2 separate regions of the Homo sapiens genome follow, and region 1 is linked to region 2. The links come from fine-mapping of genetic effects on gene expression. Tissue or cell type: whole blood. Region 2 holds a variant in brackets; the other region holds the start of a gene. All regions are shown on one strand. Distances are between the middles of the regions.

Region 1 (2,661 bases), 32 kb before region 2:
AATCATTGCAGGAATCCCAGCTGATTATACAGTCGCCTTTCAGGCCAGAACCCAATAAAAAATCAAGAAAGGATCGCCCGTTCTATTACTGCGCTGCTCCCTCCCCTCGTAGATTTCACAAATATACTTCTCACCACAAGCTTGTCTGTTCCAAGAGAATGCTAGCTCTTCTAAAGAAGGAGCCCTTTGTTTTCCTTGCCCTTGTCCAGTTCCTCTGCATACCTCTAGCACCTAGAGCAACAACTGCTATACAGGAGCCCAGATGTGGAACAGAGCAAAGAACTGAGTGTTGATTTAATGTTGCCTGAAGTCCTTAACAGCACCTTCAACCTAAACTTAACTGTGTTTTTAATCCCCTACACGTGTAATCCCTGTATGTGTGCGCAGCGTTAAAAGGATTATTGTAGCTCAAAAATTCTCCAATGAAAGAACCTCTACCAGAAAGGAGTTGCTCATCTTTCGTTCTTGAAAAGTTGGCTGCACGATACAAGTAAGAAAAGTTTTAGTTAGGCAAGACAACTTATACATAAAAGACAATTATAGGGAACATTACCTAACTTAGCACAGGGCCTCGAATGTATTCCGAAATTAAATCAGCATGTAGAAAGCAAGCCTCCTCATGCTTTTTAAAGTGTAATCTCGCGACCTCGCGGCGCGCTCTGGGAAGACCGATTCATCTCTTCCCCTCGCCCTCTTTCCCCGGCCGGCGCACAGCCGGCCCGTGGCGCTCGGCACCGCGTCTCCACGTCCAGCGCGGGGCAGGCCTGCGCGGCGCTTGCAAGGGACAAGCCGCGGAGCCGGGGAGGCTCGCCGTCTGGGACACGTTTGGAGAAGCGAGCGGTACAGTCCATTCCACGGCGACATTTTAGGATTCTCCCACTGACAACACTAAACTGAAGCGCTAAGACCAACCCTTACGACCACTTACCGTCGCAGGCCACGGTGGTGACTTCCTTTTCCGCTCCCCTACACACGCTTTTCCGTTTTGCGTGCCTTTGTTTCCGCTCCCCCCGGGACCATCGTGCGCCCCTGTCCTCCGTTCTTGTAGGTCCTCTCCTCTTCTCCGCGTCTTCTCTTTTACTATCCCACGCTCTCCTTTCCTTTCTCCGGGAACTTTATCCCGTTCCCCTGCCGGTTCCCGTGACCCCGGAAATCCCGCTCCTGCCGCGAGGCGCCCTCCGCTTCGCGCTCCCTCGTGTCACGAGGGAGCCAGGGTGGGCGGTCTCCTATTGTACTTGGCTTTTGAATTTTCGCTTTTGCAGCACAAAGGTAGGGCTGGGAAAGGAGGCTGCCGAACCGTGCTTGTTTTCGCTCAGATAAACGTGAGAAAAAGTGGAGGTGAGGAAGCCAGTGTAGGCAAATAGCGAGAGGGGAGAAGACAGAAAGGTACCGAAGGTCGACCTTTTTTAGGTATCTTATCCAAGTTATTGAGGGGAATGGGTATTTAGCCAGTTTTTTGTTTGTTTGTTTTTATCCGAATATCCAGTGTGTGTCTTGAATGTGTGAATGTGACGTGTTTATAAAGCTCAGTAAGCTTAAAATTCCGTGCCAATACATTTTGTATGCCGCAGACAGGAAGTGCTTTGGAAGACCCTTGAAAGGGGAGGTGATTTTACACCAATATTGAGATCATTTTGTCAGAGTCGTGGGACTAAAGGTAGACCTTAGGTAGTCGATGTCAAAGATAAGCGCAGCTGGACGTTAAAGCGGTGAAAACATTCAGTTAACTACTGACAGGAAAGAGCTGAGCTCTATTTCGATTCGTGCAGAGATCATCTGGGCATTTTTAAAGGGACGTTTTAAAAGGAGAAAGGGGATATGCGGGCGCTCAGTAGAGAAAGTGAACCTACAGAGTTGTTAGTGTAAATGTGATTAGGCCAGCTGTGTGTTTGTGTGTGCGCGCGTTTTAACAGTTACCGCAGGATTCTATCCTCCTACGGAGGATTTTATCCTTCTCGATTACATTTCAAAGGAATGACTCTCTGGTCCTTGAGAGAGAACTTCTGAGTGGCAAGAAATAAGTCTTTACAATTGCAAGCCCTTTAGTAAACGTTCTAAGAAAGGGATGTCAGAGACCTATCATCAGTTGTGTGCTGGTTACATCACGTAGTTAAGCTTTCTGAGGCAGTCGCCCTGGGCACAGGGCCTTATGCTGCTAAAGCTTGCTAGAGTTTGGTCAAGTCTCTGAACGCAGGGGTTTAGATGGGATGGTCATGTTCCTGGAGTTCTGCAGTGGTCATAGGTATGATTTGAATAAGTACAGGGAATATTCTAGTCGGAGGAACAGAATGTGCCAACGCGCCGAACAGGGAGGATAGTTTTACGATACGGAGATGTGTATGATAGGGAATAAGTGGGAGCCCAGTTTGGACTAATTGGAAGAAGTCATTATTAGAAGTACTGTATTTAATTCTAGTTTGTTATAAAATGAGACTCCAAGATCACTGAGCCATTTCACTGAGACTCCAAGATCACCCCAATGCTAGGCTAATCTCCATGGCGCCTAGATCTATGCCCACTCCATTCCCCATGTTGGTCCCCATAGTTTCAGGCACCAGGCTCCAACACCAGGTTGGGCCCTACAGCCCCAGTCTCCAGGTTGGCACCAGTGGATATAGGCTTTAGGTCCACTGACTGCTGGTCCCTACAGCCCCAGGTTCC
Region 2 (2,852 bases):
GATAATACTACTATTGCCGATTGGCCTTTTGAGATATCTTTTCAGTTTTTTTTTCACGTCTAACACTACCTGGACCCTCCAACCCTGCTCCTGTGGCCCCACCCAGAATTTATTCAGTACAAGAGGACAGCTTTGACCCCCTTTGATTTCATCTCCACCCCAACCAATCAGCACCAAGCCTAGCGACCTCCACCCCTTCACCCAAACTGCCTATGCAAAACCCCTAATTTAGAAGCTTTAGGGAGAATTATTGCAGTACTAACTCCATCTTCTGTGTGGTGTGGCTGGCCTGATGTCTAATTAAACTCTTTCTTTACTGCAATGCCATGGTCTGTCTTTGTGCAGGAGGCAGGAGGAACCCTTTGGGCAGTTACATTAGTATTTCTTATAAGATAGGATCACTAACAATTCTGTCAGTTTTTGTTTGTCTGGGATTGTCCTTGTTTCATCTTCGTTGTGCCGCTTTTAAGATGTTCTTTTTGGGCCAGGCGCAGTGGCTCACGCCTGTAATCCCAGCACTTTGGGAGGATGAGGTGGGTGGATCACAAGGTCAGGAGTTCAAGACCAGCCTGTCCAACATAGTGAAACCCCGTCTCTACTAAAAATACAAAAAATTAGCTGGGCGTGGTGGTGGGCACCTGTAATCCCAGCTACTTGGGAGGCTGAGGCAGGAGAATCCCTTGAACCCGGGAGGTGGAGGTTGGAGTGAGCCGAGATTGCGCCATTGCACTCCAGCCCAGGCGACAGCACAAGACTCCATCTCAAAAAATAAATAAATAAATAAATAAATAAAAATAAGTTCTTTTTGTCTTTGACTTTCAACCCTTTAACTATGATGTTTCTATGTATAGCGCTCTGCTTTTCCTACTTGGAGCTTGTTAACCCTCTTGGATATATATATATTGTTTTTCCTCAAATTTGGGAAATTTTTAGTTATTATTTCTTTGAATAGTTTTTTTCTACTCTTCTGGTAATCCTATTATATGTATGTTGGTGAGTTTCTTAGTGTCACACATTCCTCTGGGACTCTTTTTATTTTTCTTTATTCTTTTTTTCTTTCTGCTTTTTGGGTATTATTCTCTATTAGCCTGTCTTCATGCTTCAGGTTTGCTCATTTCTTCTTCTGCCAGTTCAAATCTGTAGTTGAGCCCTATAGTAATTTTTAAATTTTGATTCCAGTCAGTACTTTCAACCTTTCAACTTCAGGATTTCTATTTGGTCTTTTTTTTTTTTTTCTTGAGATGGAGTTTTGCTCTTGTTGCCCAGGCTGGAGTACAATGGTGTGATCTCGGCTCACTGCAAACTCCGCCTCCCAGGTTCAAGCAATTCTTCTGCCCCAGCCTCCCAAGCAGCTGGGATTACAGGCATGCGCCACCATGCCGGGCTAATTTTATATTTTTAGTAGAGACTGAGTTACTCTGTGTTGGTCTGGCTGGTCTCGAACTCTTGACCTCAGGTGATCTGCCCACCTGGGCCTCTGAAAGTGCTGAGATTACAGGCATGAGCCACTGTGTCTGGCCTGG[TC/T]CTTTTTTTTTTTTTTTTTTTTTTAGATAATTTATTTTTAATATATTCTCTCTTTAATGAGATATTACCATCATACATTTCTTTTCTTTTTTTTTTTTTTTGAAATGGAGTCTTGCTCTGTCGCACAGGCTGGAGTGCAGTGGCACAATCTCGGCTCACTGCAAGCTCTGCCTCCTAGGTTCATGCCATTCTCCTGCCTCAGCCCAAGTAACTGGGACTACAGGCACTCGCCACCATGCCTGACTAATTTTTTTTTGTATTTTTAGTAGAGACAGGGTTTCGCCGTGTTAGCCAGGATGGTCTCGATCTCCTGACCTCATGATCCGACTGCCTCAGCCTCCCAAAGTCCTGGGATTACAGGCGTGAGCCACCAGGCCCGGCCCTGTGTGTGTGTGTCACACATTTTTGTTGCTTTTCATGTCTCTTTTTTTTCTTTCTGAAAACTAGACACTTAAATAATATATTGTAGCAATTGTGGATATAATTGTCCCTCATTTCATGGTGCTTGTTATTATTTGCCTGTTTTTTCATTTAGCTTCTGATGGCACTATTTTACTGGGAAGCCTTTGATGTTGCTCCTTAGAGGGCACAACCTTGGGCATGGGAACATTCAGCTGAGATGAGAGCAGCTTTAGCAGTGCTCTCTTTGACTCTTTCCTTCATCACACCCAGCTGTTAGCCTTCTTTAATTCCTGGCTGATTGCCTTTTTAAATTTAAGATGCCCTTGGGCTAATTTTTGTATTTTTAGTAGAGACAGGGTTTCACCATGTTGGCCAGGCTGGTCTCGAACTCCTGATCTCAGGTGATCTGCCTAACTCGGCCTCCCAAAGTGCTGGGATTACAGGCCTGAGCCACAGTGCCCGACCTCCTTTACTTTCTTAATAAACTTGTTTTCACTTTACTTTATGGACTCACCTTGAATTCTTTCTTGCGTGATATCCAAGAACCCTCTCTTGGGGTCTGGATCAGGAAGGCTTTCCTGTAGCAAAGGCAGTGTCACAAAACAAGCTACTGCAATGGGCAAATGGAGCCTAATCCCATGGTGAAGCTCTGGAACGCCATGGAACACATGTGTAAAAGGCTGATTCTATTGAGGGCATGATGACAGCTGTGTTGTGACCCCATACAAGTGAGTCACTGGTTCAGGTCTGTTCCTGGAGACCATCAATTTGTGGGTACTTCTGGCTTGCCATGTTCTCCAGCCAAGTCTGAGGGCAGCTCTCTGATGCAAATGCAGTAACTAGCTGTCAGAAAACCTGCTGGCTTGCACGGAAGGTATGGTTCTGGACAGTGTGTCAACAGTGCCTGCTACACTGGGGAATTTTTC

What was found. PIP is the estimated chance that this variant, and not a neighbour inherited with it, causes the effect.
Region 1: it holds the start of ECHDC1, and the variant in region 2 is fine-mapped to the expression of ECHDC1 in whole blood (INTERVAL, PIP above 0.99).

The regions. Positions count from the first base shown.
Region 1 is chr6:127,342,408-127,345,068 of GRCh38, forward strand. ECHDC1 (ethylmalonyl-CoA decarboxylase 1) reads right to left here and starts at 1,202. Exons shown (of 6, transcript NM_001002030.2): 1 at 929-1,202. RefSeq lists enhancers at 487-1,360, 2,235-2,661.
Region 2 is chr6:127,374,224-127,377,075 of GRCh38, forward strand. No RefSeq gene overlaps it. Among named protein-coding and RNA genes, the nearest start is that of ECHDC1, 32 kb to the left of the region's middle. The variant TC/T (reference allele first, on the strand shown) is at 1,524.